Homo sapiens: one gene and its partners. The protein of the gene in region 1 interacts with the protein of each later gene in a pairwise test. Each region holds a gene or a part of one and is shown in the gene's direction. Other genes may lie near its edges.

Region 1 (3,353 bases):
GAGCTCAAGCGATCCACCCACCTTAGCCTCCCAAAGTACTGGGATTGCAAGCATGAGCCACCATGCCTGGCCCCCTCAGACCTTTGTTTGTTTGTTTTTTTTTTGAGATGGAGTCTCGCTCTGTCGCCAGGCTGGAGTGCTGTGGCGCCATCTCAGCTCACTGCAACTCTGACTCCCGGGTTCAAGCGATTCTCCTGCCTCAGCCTCCCAAGTAGCTGGGATTACAGGCATGCACCACCAGGCCCAGCTAATTTTTGTATTTTTAGTAGAAACGGGGTTTTACCATGTTGGCCAGGCTGGTCTTGATCTCCTGACCTCATGATCTGCCCACCTCGGCCTCCCAAAGTGCTGGGATTACACGCGTGAGCCACTGTGCCCGGCCAAGACCTTTTTTATAAGGGGACTAATCTCATTCATGAAGGCAGAGCCCTTATGATCTAAGTGCCTCTCCTCTCAAAGGCCTGACCTCTTAATCCTATTGCATTGTAGATAGATTGCAACATATGAATTTCAGGGGGCCATAAACATTCAGACCATAGCACCCTCCCATCCTTCTCCCAACACTTGCTACATTCTAGGCATCTTCCTTATTTTCTGTGCCAATTCTCACCACAGGGCTTTGCGTTCTCTGTTCCTTCTGCCAGGAACACTGTTCCCCATGGACTTCATGTTATTCCGGTCTCAGCTCCACTGTTCCTAATCAGGATGCCCTTCCTGACCTCCCTGGCCAAGGCACCACCCCTTCACCGTGCTTGGCTTGGTTCCTCATTCACCATGACTCAGTCTCCCTCCTGTCTCCCAAGGCTGAGCACAGGATTTGGTGCAAAGCTGACACTTGGCAGTGGTTTGTTGAATGACTGAGTGGAGTAACACCCTCAACTCAGTGTCCTGGGAGCCCCCACTCATGCCAGATCACACAAGGGATCCAAAGAGAGCCCCTCACAGCACTTGTCATGTGGTCCTGGACAGATAACAGTTTCCTTAAGAGCCAGTGGTTCTGAGATGGAGAAGCCCGGGGTGCTGTGGGAGCCGAGTGGGCAGGTGGGGCTTCCTGGGGGAGGTAAGGAGAGCAGAGGACGCTGGGCAGAGGGAGCAGTGTGTACCAGGAAATGCGGTGCAGTGAGTGGGGGCACCTGATTAAAGAGCTTGATCTCAAACCTCTTGGTTGGTGGGGAGAGCTATGCCGGGGGTGGGGGGGCAGAGATTTAAGAAGAAGGAATCGGGTTGGAATCATGTTTCTGGAAGAATCTGCAATTGGAAACGTGTCTCCTGGCAGCCGTGTGGATGCTGTTGGATGGGGAGAGGGGCTAGGGGACCAGGGTCGTGGGTCCAGGTGAGAGATGGCTTGAGACCAGCAGCAGAATGTGGGGGGGAGGGTTGTTTTTAGTTCATTTCTTCATTTTGCAAAGCAATGCACTAAAAAGCCAAACAGCATGTAAAAGCACACAGTGACGAGTCCTCTGCTTCTACCCAGGCCCCGTGCGCTGCCCCTGACGCCGCCCGTCTCCCTCCCCAGAGGTGACTATTTCCATGTCTCCTTCCAGAGAGGTTCTATACATTTGCAAGCAGATCTCTCTCTCTCTCTCTCTTTTTTTTTTTGGCATCTGTATCCTTTGTATTTAAATATCCTTCTCCCCCGTCTTATGGAGTAAAATACAGCCAGGCACAGTGGCTCATGCCTGTAATCCCAGCACTTTGGGAGGCTGAGGCAGATGGATTGCTTGAGCCCAGGAGTTCGAGACCAGCCTGGGCAACATGGCAAGACCCCATCTCTACCAAAAAAATACGAAAATTAGCTGGGAGTGGTGGTGCACACCTGTAGCCCCAGCTACTCAGGAGGCTGAGGCAGGAGGGTGGCTTGAACTCAGGAAGTCAAGTCTGTAGTGAGCCGTGATCATACCACTGCACACCAGACTGGGTGACAGAGCAAGATCCTGTCTGTTTAAAAAAAAGAAGTTCTTTAGCCAGGCATGGTGGCTTACGCCTGTAATCCCAGCACTTTGGAAGGCCGAGGCAGGCAGATCACCAGAGGTTGGGAGTTCGAGACCAGCCTGACCAACATGGAGAAACCTCGTCTCTACTAAAAATACAAAAAGAATTATCCAGGCATGGTGGTGCATGCCTGTAATCCTAGCTACTTGCGAGGGTGAGGCAGGAGAATCACTTGAACCCAGGAGGTGGAGGTTGCAGTGAGCCGAGATCGCGCCATTGCACTCCAGCCTGGGCAACAAGAGCGAAACTCCATCTCAAAAAAAAAAAAGTTTCTTTAGTAGCAGGGCATTATATACATGTACCTTGCCTTTTACAAATTTCATTTAATACAACTAGAAGTCACTGATCCATCTCAAATTTTTTTGTTGTTTTTTTGAGACAGAGCCTTGCTCTGTCGCCCATGCTGGAGTGCAGTGGCACAATCTCGGCTCACTACAACCTCCTCCTCCCAGGTTCAAGCAATTCTTGTGCCTCAGCCTCCCATGTAGCAGGGACTACAGGCGTGTGCCACCACGCCTGGCTAATTTTTGTATTTCTAGTAGAGACGGGGTTTCACCATGTTGGCCAGGCTGGTCTTGAACTCCTGGCCTCAAGTGATCCACCACCCTCGGCCTCCCAAAGTGCTGGGATTACAGGCATGAGCCACTGCGCCCGGCCTGCTCATCTCAATTTTTTTTAACTTGAAAGGATGAATGATATATGTTCTAATAGCTGTCCACTGTTTTGTTTCAAAAGCAAGTGCATTTTGTTAAAAAAAAAAAAACTTTGTCAGCGGGGCGCAGTGGCTTATGCCTGTAATCCCAATGCTTTGGGAGGCTGAGGCAGGTGGATCACCTGAGGTTGGGAGTTTGAGACCAGCCTGACCAACATGGAGAAACCCTGTCTCTACTAAAAATACAGACATTAGCCAGACGTGGTGGTGCATGCCTGTAATCCCAGCTACTCGGGAGGCTGAGGCAGCAGAATCACTTGAACCCAGGAGGTGGAGGTTGCGGTGAGCTGAGATCAAGCCCCATTGCACTCCAGCCTAGGCAACAAGAGCGAAACTCTGTCCCAAAAAAAAAAAAAAAAAATTGTCTAGTGTTTTTGAATTATGTTCAAGGTATAAAATTTTAAAAGATAAAAAAGGTATTCCTTCCCACCCTGTCCTCCACAGAGGTGAAAGCTATCATTTGCTTCTAGTGTCTCCTTCCTGGGATATTCTGTATATGTGAAGTTATTTTTCTTTTTTTAATTCACAAGCACTGAGCACTTATTATTTGCCAGGGACTGTGCTACATATTTTACAACCACCCAAAGTTAGGTTCATGCCCATAATCCTAGTGCTTTGGGAGGCCAAGGCAGGCGGATCACCTGAGGCC
Region 2 (3,500 bases), on another chromosome or scaffold:
TGTAGTGGCACGATCATGGCTCACTGAAGCTTCTGCCTCCTGGGCTCAAGCGATCCTCCCTCCTCAGCCTCTTGAGCACCTGGGACTACAGGCATGAGCCACCACGTCCAGCTAATTTTTTTCTTTTTTAAGATGAGGTTTCACTATGTTATCCAGGCTGGTCTTGAACTCCTGGGTTCAAGGGATCCTCCAACCTCAGCTTCCCAAAGTACTGGGATTACAGGCATGAACCACTGCACCTGGCCCTCCTCTTCTAGTAATACTTTTAACAGGCATTGTCATCCAACTCCAGCTGAAAAATTAGTTACTTTCCTATGACTAGAGACCCCTGTTGTAATAAGGAAAACATCAATGTATAAAGGGAAGGAAATCCATTTATAAAATTTGTCATTTTTTGGTTACTTGAAAAATAATCAGAGCAGCAACTCAGATCTTGCTGGGTATCAATGGTAGACAGATTCTTGGCTAAGGAAGTTTAAATTTTCAGGACAAGTACTAAGCACTAAATGTTAACATTTCAGAATCGCATTGTTCACAGTGTTTATTTGAGAACTCATAAGTTGACTGATAACAAATCTCAGACATCGGCTTTCCAGTTTTTGACGCAGTATTAGATTTCTTGTGAAATTTTTAGCTTGAATTTAGCCACTAACTTCTTGTGTTTCCTAAGCTTAAGGAAAATGAAGAGGTGAAAAAAATAACATTTCCCCCTAACCATTGCTCGCCTTTCCTCCTCCTCTCTTCCAGATATTCCGAGTGGTGTGCATCTGTTTGGGTAATCCACCAGAGACATTCACCTGGGAATATCGAGACAAAGATAAAAATTATCAGAAAATTGGCCCCATAACACCCTTGGAGTTTTACAGGGAACATGTCAAGCCACTCTTCAATATGGAAGATAAGGTTGGTGAATGGCACTGGTAGTCACTGGCTGTTTACTTTCAAATGGCTGTTAACCACAGGGAATTGTATAAGATTCTTGGTTAGCATGTATGAGTATCAAACTAGACAGCAAACAAACATTTTTCCCCACTTCCTCTGAAGTATTTTATGCAGCTAATGAAGTTGGTGGTGCCAGGATTTATCAGCTTTTCCACAATGTTCCTCTTCAGAGACTTTTTAAACTGTAAGCCAGCAGTCATTTTAATTCCCACATGCGCCCCTGTATAGGACCAGAATCATTCTCAAGTGCAAAACAATGAAAGTGTGTTGGGTATTTCTTATCGTGGATTCAGAGCACTTTTGCACTGAGGTCCCCTCGGGGAACTCTCCTGTTGAAGGGAGTAATCTTAGTTTTTCCTGTTCCCTTTAGGTCTTCCTCATCTGCCTAGTAGGAGGATCAGAGCCTCTTCCTTTTATTGGCTTCTTGATCCTCTTCCAAGCAGATGCCTGTCTTGTAACTTGAGAACAGGGGCCTTGTGATTAGCTCTCCAATTTTTCTTACTCAGTGCATGTTATTTTTCAGAATGAGTTTTGAGGGCCGGGTGCGGTGGCTCATGCCTGTAATCCCAGCACACTGGGAGGCTGTGGTGAGTGGATCACCTGAGTTCGGGAGTTCGAGACCAGCCTGGCCAACATGGTGAAACTCCGTCTCTACTAAAAATACAAAAATTAGCCAGGCATGGTGGCGCACATCTGTAATCCCAGCTACTTGGGAGGCTGAAGCAGGAGAATCACTTGAACCTGGGAGGCGGAGGTTGCAGTGAGCCGAGATGGCGCCATTGCACTCCAGCCTGGGCGACAGAGTGAGATTCTGTCTCAAAAAAAAAAAAAAAAAAATTGCTTTTGGAGCAGTTCTTGCTAGTAGGAAAAACAGGTAGATGCACCTCCTAATTGTGTCTCTTACGCGAATTAGAATAAGCAAGGACCTCTCTCACATGTATTTTGCCACCTTGTGTTTCTTTGTTACTTAACAATGTGGCTGTAGTACTTAGCTTGTAGGCAGAGATGATGAGCTTGATGGAAACATGAACCTAGAGGAGAGCTGTGTGTTGCTTGACATTCCTGGTTTTGTGCCCTAATTAATGTGTTCTTGATCTTGATAGATTTGTTTAGTGAATGACCCTAGGCCCCAGCACAAGTACAACAAACTTTACACAGTGGAATACTTAAGCAATATGGTTGGAGGGAGAAAAACTCTATACAACAACCAGCCCATTGACTTCCTGAAAAAGATGGTTGCTGCCTCCATCAAAGATGGAGAGGTTGGTATTGTTTCTGTATTTTGCACATTGGGGTTAAAACATCTTTTACTTCTTTGGTATAATAGGAAGATGGGGTTTATGTTGACTTTCTTCCTCTTTCTTCTGTTTCTAGGCTGTGTGGTTTGGCTGTGATGTTGGAAAACACTTCAATAGCAAGCTGGGCCTCAGTGACATGAATCTGTGAGTGCAGGAAATTTAAAATGGAAAGTCATTTGTGGGTTGTTGCTGTTGGAGTGTGCTGTTGGTACAAAATGACTCTGCCGAGGTTCATCCAAAGATGAAGGTTGACCTAAGGGCGCGTCTCTTTCTTTGCATCCTTTAGAGTTTGAGGACTCATAGCAGAAACTCCACATACTTAAACACTCTAACCCAGGACATCAAAATCCCACTTTCTATCTGAGTGGAAATCGTTGGGCGTTCCTAAAAAGCCATCCTCTATGAGAAAGACACTTTAAAAAAATAATTGACTATTGCGGAAATGTGTTCAGTGCATTTGGGAGTGTAATGAAAGATTTTCCAGAGCCCCCGTTTGCTATGTTACTTTGGTAACTTTGTATTTTGTCATTGTGACAAGTGGGACTAATTTGCATGCATACTTTATAGCATTCCTCCTGGTCATTTATGACAATGAAGGTTAATTTGTAAACTAAATCATATAGGATTCCTTGACTGTTCACCATTCTCTATTTTAGGGTTACTTATAAATAGTTGTTACTTGTAGGAAGTTGAGTAAATATCTTGATAGAGAAATCTGCTAAAAAAAAGAATTAATGAGGTTTAAAAAATTTTTGAAAACAGGTACATGCAACTCCCAAGTGTGTCTCTCACACTAACTAGAACATGCAAGGACCTCTCTCACATGTATTTTGCCTTTTGTTTCTTTGTATTTAACAATGTGAGTGTAGTGCTTATGCAAAAATATTCCCCAATATTTTGGACATTATTTATTTAAATTTTAATCAGCAGTGATTTAAATGAATTCAGAAACTGGTTGGTTCCACCAGCTCAAAAGAGATCAGTTTTCTAAGAAGTTACTTCAAACGCTTTTTTCATTATTTTTTAAAGTTTTCTTGCCTAAATGACAATGTAAACTTGTCAGCTTCTGATGTGGAGAATTTATGTTTAATCATCTCCTTTTTTTCCTGCATACTCTTGTGACACATAGAGAATGGACTCCCACTGAGAGACTAAGTTCTGCATGTTCCATATTCTTTCTGAAGAGCTACAGCTAGAGCCTTATTTATTTGGAGCTGTTGAGCCCCTTCAGTTTCTTCTGAATTCCTTTTACAACCAAAA
Region 3 (3,500 bases), 930 kb from region 1:
TTTAAATTTTTTATAGAGACGGGGGTCTCGCTATGTTGCCCAGTCTGGTCTAAACTCCTGGCCTCAAGCAATCCTCCCAAAGTGCTAGGATTACAGGTGTGAACTACTGTGCCTGGCTCAGCATCTTATTTATTGACTGATTGATTGATTTAAGATGGAGTCTCGCTCCGTCACCCGGCTGGAGTGCAGTGGCATGATCTCAGCTCACTGCAACCTCCGCCTCCTGGGTTCAAGCTATTCTCCTGCCTCAGCCTCCTGAGTAGCTGGGACTATAGGCACCAGCCACCACGCCCAGCTAATTTTTTTTGTATTTTTAGTGGAGACGAGGTTTCACCATGTTGGCCAGGATGGTCTCGATCTCTTTACCTTGTGATCCGCCCATCTCAGCCTCCCATAGTTCGGGGATTACAGGCGTGAGCCACCACGCCAGGCCTCAGCATCATATTTAAAAGCCAGACACTGCCGGGTATACAGTGGCTCACGCCTGTAATCCCAGCACTTTGGGAGGCCGAGGAGGGAGGATCACCTGAGGTTGGGAATTTGAGACCAGCCTGACCAACATGGAGAAACCCCGTCTCTACTAAAAATACAAAATTAGCCGGGGGTGGTAGCACATTCCTGTAATCCTATCTACTCAGTAGGCTGAGGCAGGAGAATGGCTTGAACTCGGGAGGTGGAGGTTGCGGTGAGCCAAGACGTGCCATCGCACTCCAGTCTGGGCAACAAGAGTGAAACTCTGTCTCAAAAAAAAAAAAAAAAAAAAAAAAACCAAGCCAGATCCTGTACAGATACTAGGTTCAGATTCCAGCTCTACTGTGCCAGTTTTTGCTCATTCTCTCTGGGCCCCAGTTTCCCCATATGTGAAATAGGTGACAGTGGTCGGCAGGAAAGGTGGGGATAGGGATCCTTTCCTGGTTCCCAGGGTCACTCTCCACTCTCCACTCTGAGTTTCAGGCAGCAAGAACAAATCAGTAGAGCTGGAGGATGTAAAATTCCACCAGTGCGTGCGGCTCTCTCGCTTTGACAACGACCGCACCATCTCCTTCATCCCGCCTGATGGTGACTTTGAGCTCATGTCATACCGCCTCAGCACCCAGGTGAGGCAGGGTCCAGCCCCATCTGGGTGGAGTAGGTTGGGGTAGGCTGAAGAGCGACCCTGGGCCCAGCGCAGTGGCTCACGCCTGTAATCCCAACAATTTTGGAGGCTGAGTCGGGTGGATCACTTGAGGACAGGAGTTCGAGACCAGCCTGGCCAACAGGGTGAAGCCCTGTCTCTACTAAAAATACAAAAATTAGCTGGGCATGGTGGCACATGCTGTAATCCCAGGTACTGGGGAGGCTGAGGCAGGAGAATTGCTTTATTTGTTTTTTTTAATTTTTATTATTATTATTTTTTTGAGACGGAGTCTGGCTCTTTCACCCAGGCTGGAGTGCAGTAGCGCTATCTCGGCTCACTGCAAGCTCCGCCTCCCAGGTTCACGCCATTCTCCTGCCTCAGCGTCCCGAGTAGCTGGGACTATAGGCGCATGCCACCGTGTCCAGCTAATTTTTTGCATTTTTAGTAGAGACGGGGTTTCGCCGTGTTAGCCAGGATGGTCTCGATCTCCTGACCTCGTGATCCGCCCACCTTGGCCTCCCAAAGTGCTGGGATTACAGGCGTGAGCCACCGCTCCCGGCCGAGAATTGCTTTAGTCCAGGAGGTGCAGGTTGCAGTGAGCCAAGATCACGCCATGGCACTTCAGCCTGGGCGAAGAAGCGAGACTCTGTCTCAAAGAAAGAAAAAAAAAAAAAAAAAAAGAAGAGAGTCAACATGGAGTCTCCAAGAACTCTCCCCTTCTTCTTCCCACAGGTCAAGCCACTGATCTGGATTGAGTCTGTCATTGAGAAGTTCTCCCACAGCCGCGTGGAGATCATGGTCAAGGTGGGCCTTGGGGGAATGCTTATTAACAATGCATGATCTCGGGTGGGTGCGGTGGCTCACACCTGTAATCCCAGCACTTTGGGAGGCCGGGGTGGTTAGATCACTTAAGCCCAGGACTTTGAGACCAGCCTGGGCAACAGGGCGAAACCCTGTTTCTACAAAAAATACAAAAATTAGCCTGGTAAAGTGGTGAGTGCCTGTAGTGCCAGTTAGTTGGGAGGCTGAGGTGGGAGGATTGCTTGAGTCCAGGAGGAGGAGGTTGTAGTGAGACAAGGACTCTAGCCTGGATGACAGAGCTAGACCCCATCTCCAAAAAGAAAAAAGAAAAAAAAAATCTGTTATCAAATAAAATAATAACTCTCCTGTGATGGACTGAAGGGTTTTTTTGTTTGTTTGTTCGTTTGTTTTTTGAGAAAGAGTCTCCCTCTGTCACTCGGGCTGGAGTGCAGTGGTGTGATCTCAGCTCACCGCAACCTCTGCCTCCTGGGTTCATGCCATTCTCCTACCTCAGCCTCCCGAGCAGCTGGGATTACAGGCTCCTGCCGCCACGCCTGCCTCCATCTCCCCAAGTGCTGGGATTACAGGTGTGGCCCACCACCCCCGGCTTTTTTCAACAAGCCTTTCATATGCCCTCTCAGCCCAGGCCTCCACAATCCTAAGGTGGGGACCCTTATCCTGTCCATTTTACAGATGAGGAAACTGAGGCACACAGAAGTTAAGGCATTTGCCTGCAGATACACAGCCAACAACTGTTAGAACTCAGGCCCACACCCATGAGGCTCGAGAAGCCCTGTTCTTGGTGCCTTCCATGTGGACAGCACCATACACCTTTGCCTGATTCAAAATGACCCCTTCAGGCTGGGTGCAGTGGTTCATACCTGTAATCCCAGCATGTTGGGAGGCGGAGGCAGTAGGATCACCTGAGGTCAGGCGTTCCAGACCAGCCTGACCAACATGGAGAAACGCTGTCTCTACTAAAAATACAAAATTAGCAGGGCGTGGTGGCACATGCCTGTAATCCCACCTACTTGGGAGGCTGAGGCAGGAGAATTGCTTGAACCCAGGAGGCGGAGGTTGCCGTGAGCGGAGATTGTGCCACTGCACTCCAGCCTGGGTGACAGAGAGAGACTCCGTCTAAAAAAAAAAAAAAAAAAAAAGGCCAAGCATGGTGGCTCACGCCTGTAATCCCAGCACTTTGAGAGGCCGGGGTGGGCGGATCACGAGGTCAGGAGATCGAGAACATCCTGGCTAACATGCTGAAACCCCGTCTCTACTAAGAATACAAAAAAAATTAGCTGGGCGTGCTGGCGGGTGCCTGTAGTCCCAGCTGCTCAGGAGGCTGAGGTAGGAGAATGGCGTGAACCTGGGAGGCGGAGCTTACAGCCAGCCGAGATCGCGCCACTGCACTCCAGCCTGGGCGACAGAGTGAGACTCCGTCTCAAAAAAAAAAAAAAAAAAAAAAAAAAAAGGGCTTGGTAAATATTTGAAGGATGAGCAAGCGAATTCTTCGTGCCCCATGCTCGCTCCCCTGACAGGCCAAGGGGCAGTTTAAGAAACAGTCAGTGGCCAACGGTGTGGA
Region 4 (2,928 bases), on another chromosome or scaffold:
ACTTGAAGAAACTTAAGTCGTGTAGAGTATGTTCCCTGACCACGGTGCAGCTGAGGCTAGAAATAAATTTTTTTTAAAAAAATAGAACTATCTCACGTTTGAAAATAAACGGTTCTAAATAACGTATTAATCGAAGACAAAATTATAATGGAAATGAGAAGAAATTTCAGTTGAATAGCAAAAGTACATATCAAAACTTGTGGAATGGAATATTTCATCAAAACTTGTGGAAAGGAATATTTGCGTCTGCCATGCTAGGTTTTCTTCTGTGGAATCAAACACCTGAGTGTGGAATTAGTTTGTGATTCTTATGTATATTAAAATATCCTAAGCATTTATTTGCTTTCTTGCTATATTACACCAGTTACCATTAAGACTGGAGCACTAAGTGTTAAGGGCCACCCTCCCTGAGATTTATTTGGTATATATGCAAAACTGACAAGTCTGTTTCTTTCAACAAGTGCCTACTATGGTCGGTGCGTGTACTGAGCTCTTGAGAGGGTTTAAAGGCAGGGTGTGACGACGACAGGTGCAAAACCCTTTAAAAACCCTGGATGCTATTACCAGCGTTAAGAACAGTCCTGGCCCCAGGACTAATAAAGGAGATAGGACCTGTATGCCACAGTGACTGAGGCAGAAGGAGGCAATAGGTGACATCAGTATTGGACCTCAGGGTCTTTGTCATCAATAGGGCCACTTAGGAGTCACCCAACACAGTTGTTCAGAGCATATGAGCTCTATTTCCATCTAAAGTGTTTGAAGGAAAATGTACTTTAAAAAGTCCTAATGATGCTGTCTTTGGAAGTTTATCTTGAGCTAAGTAACTCATTTATGTAACATCAGGACAGCTGGGATTGCTCCAGGCATCCTGTAGAGAGAGCGATACACTCACGTATGATAGAATATATGCACACACAGGTGACACTGTAACATAAATGCATATAGATGTACATACATATTTATATGTGGCCCGCACACTTACTCTGTTCCTCTCTCAAGTGGCTTCTGAAAGCGCACGCACAGCGATACCCATGCTTGGAGTTGGGAGGTGACACCTCCAGGAATGATAACTAATGCTGTGTTAAATAACTTTGCATATTTAAAAATGTGATCGGTAACTTCTATGACCGTGGTTCTTAAACCTGAATGGGCCTCAGAATCACCTGGAGGGCTGTAAAGCATATCGCAGGGCTCACCCCGCGGACTGTGGCCTCGGCAGGCCCGGGGCAAAGCCTGAAAAGCTCTGCTTTTCTCACAGATTCCCAGGAGCTGAGGCTGCGGGGTCTGGGCCCCACCTTGAGAATAAACACCCAGATCATATCGATCATTTCATTCAATTGATCAGTCATTCCAAATAGTACTTTTATGTCCAAAACTAATCTCAGAACATACCTCACAAGTTGAAACACTTTGCAAGGTCTGGACTAGAATGTGACCCTTTTTCTGAGGTATAATTTTGAAGGAAGAAAAGATCTTGCTTTTCAGGCATATGTGGAAAGTATCTCACACTTAAAAACAATTTACAGAAAACCTGAATTACAAAGCATCAATTGGAGGTAACTGTGTATATTTCCAAGTAATTTTTCCTTTTACAATGTATAGAGAACTCTTCTACTTTCAATAATTTATTTAGATATTATTAGATATTTGAAAGGCCAAGGAATAAAGAAAATTAAAATTAAAGCCTTAGGAAACGTTACCGATTCAAGACCCTAAATTAAGATACAGCTGCTTGGCAATTATAATTACATTCAGAGTGAAAGAGAATTTGACTCATAAATAGAAAAGCAGCTTCCACCAGGCTTCCAAGTACGGCTAATCCCAAAACACAGGTGCCTGGAAGATCCTCAGCCACCCCCTTCATTCAAACCCCAACCCTTGTGGACTGCCTGCTGTGTTCACAGAATGTTCTTTACTCAAAAGGACCTCTCATCCTTAAAGCCAATACTCATTCTTCTAACATCCCAGGGAGAAAGGCAGCTCATAGTCTCCACAGCACTCGACCCTGCGCTGTCTCACGATCTTTTTGCAGAAGGGAGAGAATTGGAAGAGAACTCCATGTCCTCAAAGGCACCTTCAGAAGTCTGGTGATTTAAATACACACTACGTTCTGCCAGGTTGCTCCACATTAATAAAAAAAAAAAAAAAAGAAAAAGTGAACGTGAGGACTCCAGTAGACTAGAATATTTGAAACCTGGACAGTCATGGACCATCCAAAATGCATTTTCCCCATCACATATCTAAATGTGTGAGATCTCCACGGGACTTGTTCATTTCATCCTTCTTTGTGCTTCAAGCCGGATTCCATGAAGCAGATGTAACTGCTGAATCGGCACTTCTCACTGCTGGACAAATAACCCCCCGAATTTCAGTGACTGAAAGCCAGAGCTTCGGTCTCATAGGACAGTTCAGGTGTCCTGGCTTGCAGGCAACATGCCAGCCTGTGGGGCTCGGGAACTGTCTCCCTCTGCCCTTTATCTGCCACCCCCCGGGCCTGGAGAACACCCAGAAGAGACATGAGCCACGTCCATCTGGAAGAACTACTTCACGTGGCCCCACCTGGGCATGGGGGAATGGGAAATGTCATCTCTGGGTGAGCCACAGCTCTGTACTTGAAAGGACAAGCAAGAGGGCAGGAAGTGTGGCTGACAGTCACCATTGGCACAACCTTTTACACACCTTATTCTCCTTTGCTTTACACTCTTCACATGTACTAAAAAGGAGCCGCTGGTGTGGCCCTGAATGAGCCACCTACCCGTGCCTCAGATGACACTGGTGGCCACTCTGTAATGACTCAGACCTTTCTAGTGTAGGATGGCTTGAGCCCGGGAGGCCGAGGCTGAGTGAGCATTGATGGCCCCAAGCACTCCAGTTTGGGTGACAGAGCGAGATGCTGTCTCCACCAAACCAAACAAAAATACCAAAAAA

The links. The genes of interacting proteins can lie anywhere in the genome.
Region 2: the proteins of ECSIT (region 1) and BLMH interact in a two-hybrid assay, tested with the Homo sapiens proteins (one study listed by BioGRID and IntAct).
Region 3: the proteins of ECSIT (region 1) and AP1M2 interact in a two-hybrid assay, tested with the Homo sapiens proteins (one study listed by BioGRID and IntAct).
Region 4: the proteins of ECSIT (region 1) and RNF32 interact in a two-hybrid assay, tested with the Homo sapiens proteins (one study listed by BioGRID and IntAct).

The regions. Positions count from the first base shown.
Region 1 is NC_000019.10:11,508,782-11,512,134, reverse strand, and holds part of ECSIT (evolutionarily conserved signaling intermediate in Toll pathway, mitochondrial isoform 1 precursor), read left to right. Parts: intron 1-3,353.
Region 2 is NC_000017.11:30,271,445-30,274,944, reverse strand, and holds part of BLMH (bleomycin hydrolase), read left to right. Parts: intron 1-747; coding exon 748-903; intron 904-2,045; coding exon 2,046-2,204; intron 2,205-2,316; coding exon 2,317-2,384; intron 2,385-3,500. UniProt on the Homo sapiens protein: The normal physiological role of BLM hydrolase is unknown, but it catalyzes the inactivation of the antitumor drug BLM (a glycopeptide) by hydrolyzing the carboxamide bond of its B-aminoalaninamide moiety thus protecting normal and malignant cells from BLM toxicity.
Region 3 is NC_000019.10:10,577,313-10,580,812, reverse strand, and holds part of AP1M2 (AP-1 complex subunit mu-2), read left to right. Parts: intron 1-948; coding exon of another isoform or gene 949-954; coding exon 955-1,097; intron 1,098-1,849; coding exon 1,850-1,921; intron 1,922-3,456; coding exon 3,457-3,500. UniProt on the Homo sapiens protein: Subunit of clathrin-associated adaptor protein complex 1 that plays a role in protein sorting in the trans-Golgi network (TGN) and endosomes.
Region 4 is NC_000007.14:156,671,774-156,674,701, forward strand, and holds part of RNF32 (RING finger protein 32), read left to right. Parts: intron 1-2,928. UniProt on the Homo sapiens protein: May play a role in sperm formation.